Linked DNA regions of Homo sapiens: region 2 is linked to region 1. The links come from fine-mapping of genetic effects on gene expression. A gene starts in region 1. The other region holds a variant in brackets. All regions are shown on one strand. Distances are between the middles of the regions.

The links.
Region 2: its variant is fine-mapped to the expression of CITED1 in testis (GTEx, PIP 0.94).

What each region holds. Positions count from the first base shown.
Region 1 is chrX:72,301,408-72,311,791 of GRCh38, forward strand. It overlaps CITED1 (Cbp/p300 interacting transactivator with Glu/Asp rich carboxy-terminal domain 1), which reads right to left and starts at 4,507. Exons shown (of 3, transcript NM_001144887.2): 1 at 4,418-4,507; 2 at 1,403-1,527; 3 at 239-837. The coding sequence starts at 1,462. The coding sequence ends at 316. LOC105373250 (a long non-coding RNA gene) reads left to right here and starts at 4,695. Exons shown (of 3, transcript XR_938441.2): 1 at 4,695-4,813; 2 at 7,036-7,191; 3 at 10,295-10,334. RefSeq lists a silencer at 5,492-5,786 and enhancers at 5,513-5,562, 7,479-7,980, 7,707-7,756.
Region 2 is chrX:72,132,462-72,142,845 of GRCh38, forward strand. It overlaps NHSL2 (NHS like 2), which reads left to right. Exons shown (of 8, transcript NM_001013627.3): 3 at 1,630-1,757; 4 at 2,048-2,243; 5 at 4,633-4,764; 6 at 5,980-8,310; 7 at 9,771-9,903. Among named protein-coding and RNA genes, the nearest start is that of RTL5, 5.7 kb to the left of the region's middle. RefSeq lists an enhancer at 9,449-9,498. The variant G/T (reference allele first, on the strand shown) is at 4,420.

The DNA.
Region 1 (10,384 bases):
GGTGTTCCTGGAGTCTTAGGGCAATGAGACCAGGTACTCCTGAGGAGATAGCCACAGTGGTGCTGGCAGCAGGAATTCAGTGAACAGCCCCCTTCACCCTCCCTTCTCCTTCCATCCCATCCAGCTCCTTCCCAGCTAGCCACTCACAACCCCGCCATGGGCCTCAGAATTGCTAAAGGGACATCAGACCATACTACACATCATTAGATCTCAATGAAGAACACCTCTAGTTGGCCCGTCTCTTTGTAAGTAACTTTATTTTTATTTACAACAGAATTGGTGGCTTTATTCCTCCATCTTTAGGGACACTTGGCATTAGCAGCTAGATGGAAAGTCCGCAGTGAAGTCAAACTCATTCTGCCCCAGCCACAGCTCCGGAAGCTCATTGGCTCGGTCCAACCCCAGTTCCACCACCAGCGACATCAGCACTTCCTCATCCACTGGGTCCGAATCGATGATAGCAGGGCTCTGGGCACCAGCAGAAGGAGAGAGTGATTCTGCCCCTCCCGCCTGGGCCCCAAAGTCCCAGTTTTGCAGGGGTCCTGCCTCCCCGGGTTGGCCTGGAGTGGCAGCAGCCATCCCCTGATACTGGCTATTAAGTTTCTGCAGGTGCATACTAGCCAGCAAGTGAGGGGCGGGGTGCAGGTTGAAGGATGGGGGTTTAGTGGGAGGGGTGGTTGTAGGAGAGCCTATTGGAGATCCCGAGGAACTAGTGGGAGCCCCACTGGCCTTGGTTCCATTTGAGGCTACCCCAGGGTAGTGCAGAATGGCCACTGCTTTGCGATCTTTCACCGCAAGGTTGGAGTAGGCCACGGAGCTCATCTCTTGGTTGGCATCCTAGAAGACAGAGAAAAGCACACCATAGTAACCCTGCTCCTGGCTTGTCCTTCACCATTCAGCAGATTTAGAAGGTTCCTACCTGCACTTCATTTGGGACTAGAGGTGGAGAGGTAGCAAGACGACCCCCTTGAAAATTAGGCTCCCACCTCAAGCATCCTTTTGCTGCCATGGCTCTGAGCACTGAGGCCAGAGCCCAGTTACAGTGCTGGAGCACCTGCCATCCTAAGTGGGTTCACTGCTTTCAGCTCCTTCCCCATAGCCTCCACCTCACCATCCTAAAAAGGGCACCTCCTGTCCCTCTTCTCAGCCTCACTTTAGTCTCTTCAACAGAGTGGTTTTGCTCCTACTCAATTTCTCTGCTCCCTTCCCTGCCATCTTTCAACACCCCTAGTGGGTTCAATCTGACCACAATTTAGGCAGAAGCTGTTCTCATTCTCCCCAGAGATAGTCCTGTTGTCTCCTCTCTGCTCAAGGACACTGGGTAATGCACCTAGGAGGGCCTGGCCCATGACCCCGGAAAATTTGTCTTTCCCTGCCTCATCTGTAAAATGGCAAAAATTACCTCCTTCGCAGGTGAGGTGCCACCCTTGACATCAAGTGCAGGCCTCGACGTTGTTGGCATTTCAGAGCCTTGGCAGAAGTTGGATAAATTGGCGGGAAGTGATGCTGCCAGCTGGAGCTGTTGTGCTGCAAGTGAGGAAGAAGCAGTGGTAAGGGCAAAAGGCTTCACTGACCAACAAAGCACTAGCAAAGCCCAAAGCAGGGCAATGCCACGCAGCTATGAGGCAAGGATGGTGACTGAGTTAGAATCAAGACCAGAGATCACCCGAGCACAGGGAGGAGATCAAGCTGGAACTTTTGCCTGAGGCAGGAAAGGTGCTTGATTCGGCCAGGTACTGCCCAGGCAGCCACCTACCCATATCACCAAGATGGGACATACTGCTTCCTCATGCAAGTGACTTCACAGTCCCAAGGTGTATGTGTGGGGGTGAGGGTGGCACTGTTCCTGGTTCAGAGGACAGGAATGTCCCTGAGTAAGCAACATATTGTCTCAATGGGCTACTAGCATCCAGGCTGGAGAGTTGGGGCCTCCACTGGGACTGGGAGAATGTGAGAAGAAGTCAGGGCAAGGAAGACCTAGAAAGCTAGAGGCTGCAGCACAGGGAAATAACAAGTCTCTAGCGCAAATGTCATGGAGCTCCAAAGCATGACCTTGGGCATGCCTGTGAGAAGCCAGGCTGATTAGGGTGGTCTGGGGGCTCTGAGGCAGCTGGAGCCAGAGAAGCTAGGAATGTGTCACTTTCCTCCATGTCTCAAGCCCCCTCCAAGACAGCCCCAGCATTGGGCTTTCCTAGGATGCCTACCCCAGAAACCTGAGTCCAGCCATTCCCATCTATAGTGACAAGTGAGGCACAGAGATTCAATGCCTTTTTAGTCAGGTAGCAGCGGTTCTGGGAGCAGAATCTAGCACCCCTATGGCCACATGCCTCACCTGACCACTGGCTAAGTCATCATACCTAGCTGGATTCAAAAGGCTTCCAAAGAAGTGATTTCCTGGCTCAAGTGCCAAAGGATAAGGGAATGAAGGCAAAAGAATACCTCCAAACCAGAAAATAAACAAACCTCTGAAAATCTCAACTTATTTTCCTGGAGGCCTGTTTACAAAGAAGAAAAAAATGTCCCATAGCTAGGCACAGTAGCACCCTCCTGTAGTCTCAGCTACTCAGGAAGCTGAGGTGGGAGGATCACCTGAGCCCTGGAGTTTGATACCAGGCTGGGCAACATAGCGGGACCCTATCTCTTTAAAAAAAAAAAGCCCCATATATTCTAGCTTTCATGATCAATTAGAGATGTAGAATTTCATATTTATAAATACCTCTTGGTCCAAAGAATCTTGAGGACCTTAAAAAGAGTCTCTAATCTTTCCAAGGAGGCTAGAATTCTCCGTGACACTCTCCACTCCGCAGCGGTCATTAAGAATCTGCTCAGACACTTCTAGAAAGTGGCCACTTACTACCTCTCTGTATCATCTTTGCATTGCTTACTTGGGTGGATGGGGGTAGGGGAGGGAAAAAATAGAGAAAGGGGTAAACATTTTTTTAAAAACATGAGGAAAAAATATCAGCTGTTGGGTCCCGCATCATTGCTTGATTGAAGCCCTGCTCCTTCTCTGAGGCAACCGTAGAAAAATATTTCAAAAGCAAGTGATCACCAGACAAGAAGTCTAACACATGTCGTCTTCAAGAGCCCTAGCACAATCAGTATCAGACAATTTTCCTGTCCTAAGAAAAATGTCTGGGGGCCCTGTCCATCTTTTCCTGTTCCTATCCAGCCTTCCCTCTCCTTTTTGCCGCTTGGTACCCGAATGTACAAAACGAAGAAAAAACAACAGGAGCAGCAGCAACAACAGCAAAACCAAAAGAGAAACATTAGAAAAATCAAAAGAGAGAACGAGCAAAAAAACTCTCTCTATTCTGATATCAGTTCGTGGGGGAAGACCATTTTACCGCGCCTCCCTCTTCAATCTGGGAGCTCCCCCAGAAGAGGCCCTGTGTCCATTCAGATCTTCTGCCTTCCATTACTGACCCACCACCCACCCTGACCCCAGCCTGGGTCTGCGCTCAATAGGCGCTCAGTAAGTGTTGTTGAATGCGTCTGAAGAAGCAATCGCATTTCCATCGGCATCCCTGGCTCTGCTTCCCCGGCTTTCTGCCCTCCTCCACCACCCTCTAGCCCGTTCGTGGGCAAAACTTGGCAACGCGGAAACGTCCCAGCCCGCTCTCCAAGCCGCGAGCTGACCACTGCGAAACGGCTGCGACAGGCGGCTGGGAAACCTAGAGCAACAAGTGCCTTCTCGCCGGCTGATGCCTGGCGGCCCCCCGGCCACCAGTTCCCAGTCCCGCTGCCCGCTCTTCGCTTCAGGCCTTCCCTTGGGCGAGCAGCCCCCTCCCGCCTAGACAGGGGTGGGAAGGGGAGAGGGAAAAGAGAAGGGAGAGGCAGGTGGGGGCCTCATCTTTAACCTGTTGGGGGACCAAAAGTTAAAATGGCACCAACCGGATGGTTCCATCTCGATTGCTATTTTCTCACTCAGAAGGAGAAATTTAAAAATCCAAACAGCACTGCGGCTTGGCTTGGACGCGCTCTAACCAGACCAGTCAGTTTCGCCACCTGAAAACTAAAGGCCCGTTGTTTGCGGACAGCTCGGCTGCCCTCCTCGCCGCATCCCAGATGGAGCCGCGGAACCGGGGGCGGCCGGGAGCATCCCTTGCACGGCGGGCGCGTGCACCCAGGCCACCGGGGCCCTGAGCGTCCGTTCCCGCAAGTGCTGTATCAGGAACTGATCTTAGAGACAGGATGGACAGGCAGGAAGGGGCACGGGGTGTCGGCCTCCGCGGCGAGTCCGCACTCCGGCGCCGGCTGCTGCCACTCTCGCGCCTGATCAACACTTACTGAGCGCCCGCTGAGCATCCGACGCGGCAGCAGGCTGAGCCTACCCCCTAGCCAAGCCGCCTGCGGTCAGTGCTAAAACCCCGCTAGGAGAAGAGTGAGAGAGGCTCGGAGAGGTGCGGTAACTTGCCCAAGGTCACAGCGCTAGAAAGTGGCGGAGCCGGGATTCGCAGCCAGGTCTCTCTGACTCCAAGTCCGGTGCTCTGCGAAGCAGGGACTCGGCGCGCGGCTCGCCAGCCCGCGTTTATAGGGAGAGGGGTGTGCGCGTGGGTGTGTGTGTGTGGGCGTGTGTCGGGGGAGGGGAGGGCTGAGGTCGACTGGGCAGTAGAGGCAAGTTGCCCAAATTCGCTAACTTCCATCCCGCAATTCCGCTGAACTCGGCCCGAAAAGCCCCCTCTTGCCTCAATTCCCCGAAGTAAATCTGAGCTTTGTGCAGCTCCGGAGCCAGAGCGTCCAGATGCGGTCCGGGAGATTAGCAAAGTCGGTGGAAGCCAAGCTGGAGAAAGCGCGGGCGCAGGGAGAAAAGGTGCTGCCGTCTCCCCGGGAGAAGCGGGCACCCGGCCCCGCTGGCCGGCAGGGGGGCGCGCTGGCAAGCGAACCCGAGCGCTGGCGGGCGGGCGGGCGGGCGGCCCCTCGCCCCCAGCAGAGCAGCTTTCCAACAGAAAGCAAGTCTCCCCAGAACCCTCCGGCCCGCCTGGCGGCCGCCCACTCCCCATACCCGCTCCACGGGAGTCCTCGGCCCCGCCGCCCAGCCCGGCGCCCAGCCCGGCGGCCCGGCTTACCTCTGAGAAGCCGCCTGCCCTGGAGAGAGGGAAGCGCGGAGCTCGGTGAGCCGCAAGAGAGGCGGCGGAGCCCCCAGCCCCTGGCACGCACGCCGCCGCCACCGCTACCGCGAACCGGTCGCGCTCAGCGCCCGCGGCCGCGCCGTTGGCCACCCGACCCCGGGGCGCCTGGGAAAAGCCCGCACCGCGCCGCGCCGCCGCTGCACCGCACAGTGCCGCGCCAAGCAGCCCCTGACCGAGCTGGTGCCCGCCCGCCCGCCCGCAGCTTCGGCGCCGGACTCCGGGGCGGTGGCGGTGGCGGCCACCGCGCTCCCTTCCCGGCGCTGGGGACCCGGCTCTCAAGCCCCCATTGCCGCCCGGAGAGCCCTGACGCACACGCACACGGCAGCAGACTGGCCTCGGCTAGGAATCCCAGGAAGGACAGACCCTTTTTTTCCCTTTTTTTTTCTCCCCTCAATTTCCACGTCTTTATAACCGGCTTAGGGCATTATTAGCACATGTCCTGGCTCGTGGGCGAGTTGGTGGCAAAATCTGAACTGGATACTCACGGAGGGCCCGCGCGGGTGCTGTGCCGTCCGCTGCTCTCTTCCTCCTCACCGAGAACTGCCCCTCGCCGGCGGACTACAAGAGGGCAGCCGGGCAGAGCGAGCTTCCTCTCGGCAGCTCAGCGGTGCCCCTTCTGCAGCTTTGCCGCCGGGCACATTTTTATAGCAGCGGCTGGCGTCTGTGGCCCTTTAAAGGCGCTCGAGCTGGTGCAGTCACCGCGGATCGTGTGAAAGCAAAGGGCCGGCTGGGGAACGGAGTCCACGCGGCCACGCGAGTCCGGCAGCCCTGTGGACCGGCCAAGGCTCCCGGGGTGGGGCTGGCGAGTCCGGGCTATGGGCAGCCCTCGCCCGGAGCCCTGGCCAGTGCCCGGCTTCTAAAGCTGTCGGGGGCCAGGGCCCGGGACACCGGCTCTCCCCACCGCCCTGCGTGGACTTGCCCAATAAATTCCACTTAGTAATTTCACTGAGGCAAAGGAGAGCCGTTAGTGTCTGTTTTCTGACCTAAATCTAGTCGGGGGCCAAAACGGGCTTCAGGGGTTTTGGGAGAGAGCTGTGGGCTCAAGGAGTGACCTGGAAGAGCGGGGCGCACACGAGACGGGGGAATGGTCATTAGTTTTCTGCAGGGCTGTCTTGGAGCCTGTCTGCCTTTTGGGGGGGCTGTACTATCTCATTCGTTGAAGAGCTGAGGCTGGGGGCTCCTTTTCCTCTTAAAGTCGCCAGATTCTGGGCAGAGTCGCATGGGGGGCCTATATGGCAGCGGTGGCTCTTCTAGAAGTTCTGAGCTGGGGTTGGGTTCGAGGGTTTCTGTTCTGTGGTCATCCAGGGCAGGAGGCTGGCAGGATGCGACCCGGAGAAATGCTACTCTCCCGGACCGTGGGGCCAGGTACAGCTCACTAGGCTCGCCGAAAAGCCAACAGTAGGCAACGGGGTACGAAGAGCTTGCCCCAGGGTTCGCGGAGATTCCTCCTGCCTTCCCACGATGTCAGGTTGTTTTATTGTAACTACATAATCATTCCCGTCTAGCAAGAATAACGTTTTGCATTTGGAGTTCGTCTTTCTTAGGTAGAGATGTTGTCTTACAAATCCTTACTGGAAAGAGGTCTGGGTCTTCTCCTTCACCTCAATTCGGATTCTTTGTGGCCAAGAAATTCCCACCTTACCACTTACAGGGAGGCCATCGGGATTACCCCTCTGTCACCCCCCCACCCCGCCCCGGCCCCGCCGCTCTTTTTTTGCTGCCTTTCAGCAACAGCGACTCAGTTTACACTGTTTATAAAACATACTCTTTAAGAAAAGGTCCTGATGTTAAAAAAGGGGGGGAGGGAATGTCACGAAGTCATTTTCACTATGTATGTGTTCTGTCTTCTTAATTGGATTTGAAGACCTGAAGTTCTCTTTTTCTTTTCTTTTTCTTTTTTTAGTAGCCCCAAGTGCCCTGCATTTGCTCTTCTAACAAAGTTCTGTTTGTTGACGGACTGACCGGCTTACCGACACAAAGATGGGAAGCAAATGGAGAGACGGATCAAGGCCCTTCCTCGGCATCTGGAGGAAGCTTGGGCGAGTGTCTTGGTCGCCAGGTAAACCCATTCTCCAGCCCTCAAGGCTGCCTTGCACAGCTCCAGTCTTTTCACTTACCCTGTCCCAACACAAACCCCGGTAGCATCCACACCCCACACATCTTCGCTGCACTTTCTCACTTTGCTTGCCAGATTGTGGGCCCTGCCTAGTCTCCCTCTGATAAAAGGCGGGATCTGTCGGCACCCTAAAGCCTTACTGCAAACCGCGTGTGAAATACACTCTCAAGTTCTCTTGGTGTTTGCCTGGGATGAAAAAAAATGTTTCTGCGAAAACTAAGTGGTGGAGAATGAGCGACTCTAGGCTTTCGAATTGCATGTTACTAATTTGAACCCCTGACCCACCCTCCCCGTCAGCCCCGGCTTGGCTCGGGAGCAGGTCTGGCAACAGCGGCAGCTTCTCCGCTGCAGGCTCCGGATCCGGGAGGTGTGGATCCGCCCTCCATCTATTGGATGGCTCCCAGGCCAATTGTTAGAAAGAGGCATATGTTCATCTCGGCTTCTGGAGTGTCTCCGGAGCAGTTGCTCAACAGCCAGCCCCCTCCCCCATCCGGACCATTGAAGGGCAGAAAAAGGAGCGCCCTCCACCACATTTCTCTGTGCCCACATGCCAGAAAGGGTCTCCCCCCTGGTGACTTCCTGTCATCTCCACTGCTTACCTCCTGGGGAGCAGGAACGAGAGGGGCTTCAAGCACTCAGCTTTGAAGCACAAAAGCCACCCCTTTCCTTTTTGGGGAGATGGGAGAGGAGGTTAGTTGCAGAGGCTGAGAGGGAGCAAAGGAGACATTTGCATTTCTCGGCAAAAATGCTCTGATCACTGACTTCCCCGTTGGCTCCAGCAGAGCTCAGAGCTCTCCGCTGAACTCTTATCTCCAACTTGGCAACTAGACCGCGAGCTTGCGAAGCAAGGAGAGGACAGGGATGGTCACCTACCGAGAACCTCTGTGCTCCAGCGCTGGGCCTGGCATGTTCCCCATCCATCATCTCATTTAATTCCCAGGACAGCCCTTTGAGGTAGGGTTTACCAAAGGTGAATGAAACAGAGCCTCGGGAAATTGCCCAAGTTCACATAGCCACGTGGCTGAGTGTTTGAATCTGGATCAGGCTGTCTGCAAAGTTTTTACCCTCAGCCCTAATCCCCGCTGCCTAGGAGGGTAAGGAGGCTGTCTAGAGTGCAGGTTCAGGGGTCAGTAGGCCTGGGTTTAAATTCCTACTTTGCCATTTGTTAGCGGTGAAGTCTTAGGCCAATGGCTTCATGCTTTGGTCTTCAATTTTCCCATCTGTTAAATGGGGATAACAATGGTACCTAATCTGTGGGGGTTGCTTAGCCTGATTGGTGCCCGCAGTGTAGTAAATGGCCAATAAATGCTGTTATCGTACTGGACCTTCTGATTATTTTCCTTTTGCCTCCCGTCCCTGCCTCAGCTCACACACTTCAGATTCAGTAATACTTGCTGAATGATTAATTTTAAAACCAGACTGAGAGGGGATGAAGGAGGTCTATAAACTCAGGGAGGAGAGAGAGAGAGAAAAATGCAGATTTCTTCTTAAAATCCCACCCTCCAGAACCAAGGACTGCCTGAGCCATATGACAGGAGTAAATTTGGGACCAAAAAAAGGTGACCACTTTTTACAGGTCAGCCTATAAACTTACAGAGTGGTCTCCAGAAACATATACTCAATACGTGTGTAGAAAAAACTTTAAAAGCACAAGTTTTTATTCAAGAATATTTACAGCAGAATTGTTGATAATAGTGGAAAATGAAAAGGAACCTAAATGTCTATGGTAAGGGTGTGTCCCTTGGTACCTTGACACACACACACACACACACACACACACACACACAATCCTGACTTTGAAAACTCTTATTCATAGGAAAATATTCATAACAAAATATGAAATAAAAAATGCTGGGTACAAAGTTGCATAAATATGATGCCAAGCTGCAAAGGGCACAAAGGGAACAAAATTAAATACTCACTATGTTTCCAATCATGTATGAATATGTACAGAAAGCGACAGTCTGGAAAATACCAAAATGATAACAGTGCCAGTAGAGTGGTAGGATTATGAGTGATTTTCTTCTCTTTTCCCCATATTATGCAATATTATTCTTATAAGTAAATATGAGTTTATAGTTAATAAACTCCATAAATATTATGTTCCCACTTTTGTTAAAATATATGTGCATAGAAAAAATATCCATAATCTCACTACTCAATTATAATCACTGTTAACACCAAAAATTGTTAACGGTGATTATAATTGAGTAGTGGGATTATGGATAATATTTTTATTTTGCTTTTCTTTTTCTGCAGTATGATTATATTACTTTCTTACAATTAAAACAGATTCATAATTTGAAAAGTACATAATCAGAGGGATCCCACTTGGGTTAAGAGTATGAATGTAAATTGAAAAAAATGAGAAGGAAGAATACTAAAATATTAAGAGTTTTATATTAGGTGGTAAGGAATTATGGGTAATTTCCTCTCTATTTTCTGTAATCTGCTTTTATTATTTTTACAATTAAAATAAAATGTACCTAAAAATAACATATACAATATGATCCCACTTTTGTTAAAAACGAATATGTATATAGAAAAAAATAATAAACTACTCCAAAATGTAGTAGTCTCTGGGTGGTGAGTTTATTAGTGATTTTTGTTTTCTCTTTCATACATGATTTCTTCATATGCCAAATTTTCTACAGTCATCATGTATTAATTTTTTTAAAAAGTGTAAAGTACTTCGGTAATGAAGTTTTTATGGAAAAAAGAGCATGTCTGGGATTTGCTTTAAAACATTCCAGTTGAGGGTGGGGGGAAAGTGGACAGGGGATATAGATTAAATAAGATGATAATTGTTGAAGATGGCTTCATTATAATGTGTTTTTGTTTATTTGTTTGTTTGTTTTGAGACAGGGTCTCACTCTGGCACCCAGGCTGGAGTGTAGAGGCGCGATCTTGGCTCACTGCCACCTCCACCTCCTGGGCTCAAACAATTCTCCCACCTTAGCCTCCAGAGTAGCTGGGACTACATGCGCGTGCCACCATGCCCAGCTAATTGTTTGTGTTTTTGCATTTTTTGTATTTTTTTTTGTAGAGATGGGGTTTCATGATGTTGCCCAGTTCTTGAACTCCTGAGCTCCAGTGATCAGTCTGCCTCGGCTGCCCAAAGTGCTGCGATTACAAG
Region 2 (10,384 bases), 170 kb before region 1:
CCATGGGGAAACAAGGACAGAGACTGAGGCAGGGCCATAAGTTATGCCATTCACCGAGAGCTGGGTGGGAGACTCCCACAATGTGGGCCTACATTCCCTCCAGCCCCCCTCTTGCCACATCGCCCATGCCTTTGGGATCCTGGCACCAGAAGACAAAGGGGGCATCTGCAGGATCTCCCACTCTGGGCTTCACTCACTCTGCTCTTGCAATAACCCCTGGATAGCTACTGCCTCACCAAAGTAAGCCCAATACACAGCACCCAGAGGTCACCTATTTTGTCCCCCCTAACCAAGCCTGAGCTTCTCGATGTAAAGAATCACATCTTGCTACCCTTAGGTTTCCAGAAGCACCTGGCACAAGGCTGGATTCCCTCCCCACCTGCCAAGAGGTGCTCAGTGGATGTTGAGCATGAAAAGAGGTCTTGTCAGCACTCCTTTATCTATACTAATAAAGGTTAACTCTAATGGCGAATAGAAAACTGCTGATGGGCCACCAACAGGATGACAGCCATAACCCCCACCCCCTACCAGGGCAGTGGTGACCTTGGAAAAGCAAGATGCCAAGGGACACCATGAGCCTTGTGTTCAGATAACAAAGGACTTGCCACACAGAAAAAGAGTCGATGTGCTCTGTGTTGCTACCATGGCAGAATTAGGACCAGTGGGTGGAAACCCAGAAGGAGGCACATTCCACCTCCAGATAAGGAAGAACTTTCTGACACACCTGACAGCCCCAACTGTCCGTGGAAGAAATGAGCTGCCTTGGGAGGGAGGGAGCTCCCCTTCCCTGCAGGTGTGTGCGCTGAGGCTGAAGAAACACCTAGAAGGGCTGCTGAGGAGGGAGTCTGGGCACAGAATGAGGCGTTGGACCAAAGAACCCCAAGAGCAACCCCAAATCTCTGTGATTCTGAGTCTTTGTTCAGTGTACATACAGCATGAATGTCCCTTCTCTACTCTCACTTTCTTCATGTATTCTCATCAAATTCATCACTTCAATCAACCCTATTCAAATCTTGTGCATCCTTACTCACTGATGATGCCGCTGAACTTCTGCCTCTTTTATGCTGTTACCTCCTCCTTCCCTCTCCTTCACCTTAGCCCTCCTAGACCTGACATCACTTACAGCGGGACTAAGGTGCAGGGAACACGGCCCACAAAGGCTCAAGTAAAAGTTCTTGACATCCAAGAAAGAACTCCAGATTGGACTTCCTGGTGTAAATCTCTTCTTGCTTCACACAGGTCATTTCCTTGGTAGGGTCGCAGAAAACCTTAAGAGCTGCAGGGCTTCAAAGAGAGGAACTTGCAGTCCAAAGTAGCAAAAGGTGTCTGCATTCTGAGCCTCTTTTCGTAACTGAGCACTCAAGGTGGGGATCATTGAGATAAGGGCTTGGTCCCCAAACCACCACAGCATGAATTTATTGACTTTCTCTTCTCCTCGATCCTCATGGTCCTGGGAAGCAAGCACTTTTCCATTTCCAAATCCAGTGGCTCAAACACCTGGAAATAGCCTAAAGAAAATGCAAGTCAGGCCTGGCAGCTAGAGCAGGAGTCCTGGCTCATGGCCCTTCCCCGGCCCAGCGCTCGGCCATGGCACCCTAGAGTGTGTGTCTCCACTGTGCTATTTTTCAGAAGAATATGAGGAACAGTACTCGGAGGCCAGACTTGTGGGGCAGACCTTCCGCTCTTCTGATGAGGCCACTAAGCCCACCCCCAACCCAAGGCCCCAGTCTGCCAGGCGTCTGGAGTTTATATTGATGGTGAGTTGCCTCATCCCCCACCTGGGAGAGCCAGCATGCACCCACTGACAAGAGACCTCCAGCTGCTTACTTTACCCACTGGAAGCTGCTCAGCCCTGCTCACCAGCAGAGCTACCCTGAGGCCCCACTGGGATAGGCCCTGCACAGCAGGTGCCTGGCCTGGTGGCCTGTCCACGCTTTCCTGCCTCCCAGACGAAGCCTCCAACTACCCAGCCTAAACAGCCACCCTATGGGCACTGGCTCATTGCCAGGCAGGAATACACCCTTTCCATCACCTTCTCTCCCAACAGCCTACAAAACGGCAGCTGAGCGAGGATGAGACTACCACCCAGGGTGTGAGGGCCCCCGAGGCCTCCCTGAGCCTGTCTACCACAGCCGACAAGCAAACTGCCTGGAATAGCCTTTTCCCTCTGCCCATCCTAGAGGAGAAGCGGTGGCCTCAGCTTTGCTCCACGCAGTCTGACATTGTGCCCATCAACATCTCTGGTAGAGTTGCTTAGCACCGCCTTTGTCTTCTTCCCTTCATGCCTCTACAGACCATCCTCTTTGATGCACTGGGTATTGGGGGAGGGAAGTGAGACTTTCTTTGCTACCGGCTCACCTTGCGCTGTCACGGTCATGGCTCTTGCCAGGGAACGGAGGCATGCAGAAGAGGGGGCGCTGGCTGCTCTTTCTTCACCCCCTCCTGGCACTGCCACCCTAACTGAGACCATTTGATAGCAAGCAAAATTTTCTTAACAGAAAGCTCCAAAGCCTTATGAACTTCTGTGCTCTTCAGAGCACTTATGGAAACTTAAAGTTTGTGAGTTCTGTTTGGGTCAGGGCAAGACAACTTCTTGTGCCCAGAGCTGGGTTTGGAGTACACTGATAAGAGTCGGAGCAGGAGAGTGGGGTTTGGAGTGCTGGTGGTAACAAGGGAGGAGTACACCTGGGCACAGACCAAAGGCCTGGTAGCACTTTCACTGGACACTAGTCTTCTAGCAAGGTGGGCTTCTTCAACTTGTTTGGCAAGTTTTCAAGAAAAGAAGTGGTAGAAAGGTCCTAAGGCCAAAAAGACCAAAAGGGGACCCAGTACAATTTTAAGAGTGGGGAACGTGCTGTATTATATGTAGCCCAGCTGGCTGTGGCTCTGGGGGCATGTGGCACACTATACCATGCTCACTATTAATCCATGATCTACACTCCATCAGCTGTAAGGGGAAGAGAAGGAGGGCCAGTCATTTGAGAAGGAGATAGGGCCAGCGACATGATGAAACCATGATCTCAGTAACCTAAAGGGATCAGAGGGGTCCTGTGAGCCAGCGCCAGCCTGTGCTCTGCTGGGAAATGTTGATGAAGATGATGAGGACAGCTCTGGCCACATGTGGCAATGCTCCCTGGATATGGGGTCCTCCACTGTCACTGGCATCATTTCAGAAAATCAGAGGCAGGAAATACAGCCCACAGCCTAGGGAAATATACCAAAAGGAGTGAGGGCTGATGAGGAAAGACTCCAGAAGTGATGTTGAACATTTTGTGTCTAAATGTCTATCTTGGCCAGGCACAGTGGCTCACGCCTGTAATTCCAGCACTTTGGGAGGCTGAGGTGGGTGGATCCTTTGAGCTCAGGAATTCAAGACCAGCTTGGGCAACATGGTGAAACCCCATCTCTACCAAAAATACAAAAAAATAGCCAGGCGTGGTGGCGCACACCTGTGGCCCTAGCTACTCGGGAGGCTGAGATGTGAGGATTGCTTGACCCCAGGAGTCAGAGATTGCAGTGAGCCGAGATCACACCACTGCACTCCAGCCTGGGTGACAGTGAGACTTTGTCTCTAAATAAATAAATAAATGTCTGTCTTCCTCTCAATGAGGCTGTCCCTGAGCATTGCCCACAGAGCCACTTGCTGAGGTGTCTGTGAACGTGTGCAGCTGTGTGGCTGGCTGAATGAGAGAAAGGGAGGGGGAATCACAGACCTCGCCCCACCACCCTGCCTTGCCTTGACTCTGACCCAGCCATTTCCCAGCACCCAAAGACTGACCTAGCACTTTAAGAGAAATACAGCTCTAAAAAATTTTTTTAATAATATTAAGTAAGGCATATTATTGAGGAAATATTCCATTTTAATTGTGTTGAATTTGAAAACATTATCAAGTCAGTAAACAAACTGAATTAACAGATATTTTGAAAGTACCATGTAACTCAGATGAAGTGATAACTATAATCTGTGTCAATAATTTTCCTAAATTGAAAAGCCAGTGCCAGGAAAAAAAGAGAGAGAGAGAAAGAGAAAGAAATAGAGCTCAATCACCATGCTGTGAGCCAGCTTTGGTAAAATGTGACCAGGTGACTGTAGGACAGACTATCAGGCATCTTCCTGGATGGTGGAGGGCAGTAGGGCAGCCTCTTGGAGACACTGGCCTCACCTGGCCCATATAAAGGCCTTCTCTGAGAAAAGATCACAGTCAAGCAGCATCTAGTCCCAGTCCGCTGCTCTACACCAGTGGTTCTCACCCCTGGCTGTACCTCTGAATAATCACTTGAAGACTTCTAGAAAATGCTTCTACCTGAGCCCTACTCCCAGAGATTTCAGTGTTCTGGGGTAAGGTCCAGGTGTTGCAGTTTCAAAAGCTGCCCAGTTGAGTTTAATATGTAGCCCAGGGTTGAAAACCACTGCCCCAG[G/T]CCACCTAAAACTTACAGGCAACCTGGGTGCAGCCTGGGAAACCCAGCATGCATTCCCAGGGCCAAGTTGGGAAGGATGAGGAAGAAGTGCCACCTGCCTTGGATGCTATTCATGCTTATCACGACTGCCATCATTCTCTTCTCTCAGGCCAATTTCCACCGTGCTTTAAACAGAAACCAGGATGCACCCAAGTGTCTTTATTTTGGCTACAGGGCAGCAGTTTGATAAACATGCAAGTTTGCGACACTCGTTGTTTAACACAGAGACAGCCGTGAACCCCAAGTCCACCCTGAGGCGGAGGCGGACCATTATTGGATTCTCTAACTTTTCCCAGCGAGACCAAGGTGACCCCACCACAGCTGATTCCCCAGTCCCTTCCCCTTACCCACTCCTGCCAATCCTGCCACCCAGGTGGTACTGTGGTGATGGGGAACAGGAATAATTGGGTGGAGGAGGGGGCCTCCGGATGTCCTGAAAAAGCCAATATGGTAATTAAGAATAGCTAAGGGCCTCTTGTCAAGGGTGGCAACTGAATATGGAGAGTAGGTCTTCCGGGCTAATGAATCCATTACATTATTGTTTCCCATTATAAATGTAATACAACCAGATATGCCAAATTTAGGCAAATAGATGAAGAGAGAGGGTTCCTCACCATCATCTTAACAGAACCATTACTACCATTAAGTGAATGCTGGCCAGGAGCACAGACCAGGGAGATAGCAGAGGGTAAGAGCCCTGGTCTTTCCGCTTACTAACCAGGAGACCTTGGCCAAGTGACATAACCTCTCTGAGCCTCAGCTTCTTCATCTATAAAGTGGGGATAATGATACTGACATGGTGGAATTAGCATGAAGATTAGCGTTATTGTATGTAACTTGCCTACCATGTGCCTGGTACATAGTCAGTGTCCAATAAATGGTGGCTATTGTTACAAATTCTCATAGCAGTAGTAGTTATAATAATAATAATAATGACATGACAGTATTAATTGTTTGTGTGTATGAGAAAACCTTTGGGGATTTGGAACATCCAAACGGTTTCCTCACATCCGTAGATTATCCTCAGCCTCTTATGTTGCAAAGCCTAAAAGTGATGGGTGCGAACAATGCAACCAGACTCTTAGCTTTGCATCTTGGGCATGCTCCAGAGTCATTGCTGGAGCCAAACGTCACACCATGCCGTCCTTAGTTCGGAAGCCTCTACTCTCATCTCTAGATGGATGAATGCTGAGGTCTGTGATGGTTTCATGAGCCTGGGGTGAAAGTATGGGGAAAATGCAAGGTAATCCCACGTGACACTTCAGCTCTAAGAGGAATAATCAAAGCTGGAAAGTATTTGGCAGCCATCTGGACCATTCAAGGGCACCGTATGTCTCACTGTGGGGTGATGGGCAAGGACCCAATTTCCCCAGCATCTTCATCCATGGAAGGGAAGAACCAAGGAATTCTGACCAAGCTGTTGGCAAATGCTTCTTGGCAAAAAGTTGGTGCTCCTGTCTCAAAACAGCTGGTGGGAGATCCCTTGCTGTAGCACTCATGTCCTGTGTTTATTTCCTCCAGGTCACAGCAACAGCCCAGCAGGCAGTGTGGCCCACTCTACCACCTCCGACATCAGGCCCAGTCACTCAGTTCCAGAAGGGGTTCATGGAAGAGTTGCAGTTGGTCAGGATGCTCGGTTCCCAAGTCTCACCTCGCCAGTACTGAGAACTCCTTCCAGTGAGCCGGACGAACCTCACCAGGCACGGAGTGGCCCAAACCCTCCTGGCATGGAGAGCATGGGAATGGTGTACAGTGTCCCCAGTTCTTGCAATGGACCTACAGAATCAACCTTCTCCACTTCCTGGAAGGGAGATGCTTTTACCTACATGACTCCAAGTGCCACCAGCCAGAGCAATCAAGTCAATGAAAATGGGAAAAATCCTTCCTGTGGGAATTCTTGGGTCTCTCTAAACAAAGTCCCACCTCTGGTTCCTAAGGAGGCTGCTACCCTCCTTGTCGCTCGTGATAACCCAGCAGGATGCAGTGGGTCAGCTGGCTACCCTGAGCGCCTTATTCAGCAAAGGCACATGCCCGAAAGACCCTCCAAGATTGGCCTTCTGACCAGTGGGACCTCGAGGCTGGAGACAGGCCCCGGTGGGGCCAGCAGATTCCGGGAGCGGTCACTGTCTGTGCCCACAGACTCAGGCACCACAGATGTGGACTATGATGAGGAGCAGAAGGCCAATGAGGCCTGTGCCCTGCCTTTTGCCAGTACGAGCTCTGAGGGCAGTAACAGTGCTGACAACATTGCCTCCCTTAGTGCCCAGCAAGAGGCCCAGCACAGAAGGCAGAGGTCCAAGAGTATCTCACTTAGGAAGGCCAAAAAGAAGCCTTCCCCACCCACACGCAGTGTCTCACTGGTCAAAGATGAGCCAGGCCTCTTGCCTGAAGGTGGGTCAGCACTACCCAAGGACCAGAGGCCCAAGAGCCTTTGCCTCTCCTTGGAACATCAAGGACATCACTCGTCCCACCCAGATGCTCAGGGTCACCCAGCTATTCCAAACCACAAAGATCCAGAAAGTACACAATTCTCCCACCACTGGTATCTTACTGACTGGAAGTCTGGTGACACCTACCAATCCCTGTCCAGCTCCAGCACTGCCACTGGCACCACAGTCATTGAGTGCACCCAAGTTCAGGGCAGCTCAGAGTCTCTTGCCTCACCTTCCACCTCCAGAGCCACTACACCTTCCCAACTCTCCATTGAAGTGGAGGCCAGGGAGATATCATCCCCGGGAAGGCCCCCTGGACTGATGTCACCCTCCAGTGGCTACTCCAGCCAGTCGGAAACACCAACACCCACTGTTTCCATGTCCCTGACCCTGGGCCACTTACCCCCTCCAAGCAGCAGTGTCCGGGTACGTCCAGTGGTACCTGAGAGGAAGTCATCACTACCCCCGACGTCACCAATGGAGAAATTTCCCAAGTCACGGCTATCATTTGACCTACCACTGACCTCTTCACCCAACCTGGATCTGTCTGGGATGAGTATCTCCATCCGAAGCAAAACTAAGGTGAGTCGGCACCACTCAGAGACAAATTTTGGCGTCAAGCTGGCCCAGAAAACTAATCCCAACCAGCCAATCATGCCTATGGTTACTCAGTCCGACCTACGTTCTGTTCGCCTGAGGTCGGTCAGCAAGTCTGAGCCGGAAGATGATATTGAGAGCCCTGAGTATGCCGAGGAACCCAGAGCAGAAGAAGTCTTCACCTTGCCAGAGAGAAAGACAAAACCTCCCGTAGCTGAGAAGCCTCCGGTGGCCCGGAGGCCTCCAAGCTTGGTCCACAAGCCACCATCTGTTCCTGAGGAGTATGCACTAACTTCACCAACCTTGGCTATGCCCCCCAGGAGCTCAATTCAACATGCGAGACCACTCCCTCAAGACAGCTACACGGTAGTGCGGAAACCAAAGCCCTCCAGCTTCCCAGATGGCAGAAGCCCAGGGGAGTCAACAGCACCCTCATCTCTTGTTTTCACGCCTTTTGCCAGTTCCTCTGATGCTTTCTTCTCAGGAACACAGCAGCCTCCCCAGGGAAGTGTAGAGGACGAGGGCCCCAAGGTGAGGGTTCTGCCTGAAAGAATTAGCCTCCAGAGCCAGGAAGAAGCTGAGAAAAAGAAAGGCAAGATTCCACCTCCCGTACCAAAAAAACCCAGCGTGCTGTACCTGCCTCTCACTTCTCCCACAGCTCAAATGGAGGCCTATGTGGCAGAACCAAGGCTGCCTCTCAGCCCCATCATCACCCTGGAGGAAGACACCAAGTGTCCCGCCACCGGCGATGACCTGCAATCACTTGGTCAAAGGGTGACTTCAACTCCTCAGGCTGACAGTGAAAGGGAGGCAAGCCCTCTGGGTTAGTAAACTGTCTGCTGGCTTTTTCCTTCAGTCACAGGAGAGATGAGGGTGAGAATGGAGTGCCAGAGATGGAAGCAGATGCCCCAGAATAATTATCCTGATCCCAAGTCAGTAGCGGGCACCCTTTGAGGGTTTGAGTTACTCTAAATAGGAACCACGGGCTGGCCTTACTGCCCTTGAGATCAAGACTAGCCCGAGGCAGATCTCCAAGGCCCAGTTTAGGCCACTCTCCCCTCTAAATCTCTAGTGCTGAGATAATGAAATCAAACTAGGTTCTAGCACCCTAGGACTTCAGCATCCCACATCCCTAGCCAAGCATGCATCCTGTCTTGGGAACTACTCCACCTCACTGTACAGTACTTTTCATTGGCTGCAGTGAATTTAGTTCCCTACATGGGACCCAGTACCCCACCAGACTGAGTTCAAGTGCCATGGCAGGCTCGGAGCCATCTGAAACAACGGAATATGTTGCCACCAGCAGCCTCTTTTTGTGCCTTCCGGAGGAAAGGGAGCTCACTTTCTTGGGTGGTTTGAGTTCTTTGGCTCTTCCTGGAACCATAAACATAATACATAATGCTTCTCATCCTTTCTTTTTCTGTCTCTTTTTGTTTTAATTGTGGTAAAGTACCCATAACATTTACCATCTTGACCATTTTTAAGTGTGCAGTTCATTCGTGTTAAGCACATTCACATTGTTAAGCAACCAATCTCCCGAACTCCTTTCATCTTGCAAAACTGAAACTCTGTACCCAGTAAACAACAACTCCTCCTTCTCCCTCCCCGCAGATTCCTCCCTCCAACCACCATTCTACTTTCTGTCTCTATGAATTTGACTCTAGACACCTCATATAAGTGGAATCATACAGTATTTGTCTTTTTGTGACTGGCTTATTCCACTAAGCTTAATGTTGTCAGGGTTCATCCATGTTTCTCATTCTTTTCTGAACCCTTAACACCAAAAATCAAAATCTCATGGCCTTCTATATGCAAATTTGGACTTTCAATATGAGTCAATTATGACTAAGTCAAGTAAATAAATCAAAGCCCCAGGTAGTTGTAGAAAACACTTCCTCAGACTCCACAGGCTCCCCTCTGAGATTCAAATAGGTTCCACTCTCACCCACTGGGTGGGAGTCACTAGTTTAGATCACTCCCAGCTCCTTCATTTGGAGAAATGATATACAGTGTTTAAAACAAGAGAATGCTCGGGCCACCTGTTATAATGACAAAGACATGACAGAATAGGGACCCACGCTGATCTTCACCACTCACTCCACCTTGGGCAAATCATTAAGCTTCTGAACTTCATATTCCTCCTCTGCAAAATGGAGGTATTAAAAATCTCCACCCTGCTGCCCTCACAGAGTTGCTTTCACCATCAAATGAAATAACATATGAGAATGTGCTTTGTCCTATCTACTGTGGTCAAAGTCATTCCTTTTGGTTTTTTATGTCTAGGGAGTTCTGTGGAACCAGGCACCGAAGAAAAAAGTTTAATCAGTGATAAAACAGCTGAATGGATTGCAGAGGATGATGATGACGTGTTTGTGGCTTCACGCACAACTGAAGATTTATTTACTGTGATACACAGGTCTGCACCAATTTCCTTAATTCTAATTGCAATTGCCTTCCCTTTTTGTACTTAAAGAAAACCTGCTATTCCACATTGAAATCCTAATTGTAAAAGAAAAAGAAAAAAATTAAAAATAAGAAAAACTGCTACCTTTAAGCAGCCATTAGAATTGCACCTGGAGGCTAAGTTCAGATACCCACATATGTGAGCGCAGTCCAGGGCCTCGCATCTCAAATTCACTGACATCGTTGGGTAAAGTGGAGGAAGGGAGGGGAGAGGAGGACCAGGTGCCGAGTGAGAGGCCCCTCGTCTCCTAGCAACCACTTGGCCTATTGTGGCTCCATCTGCTCTCTCTTAGCTCTGTCTATAGTCAGAGACATTTAACCCTTCACAGAATTCCTTGTATCAAAAAAATCCCATCAAGAGTTGAAGTGGGGCACCAGGCAGCATATCAAAACAGGAACTTAGGAAAAGAGGAACCAGATGGGGACCAGTTATT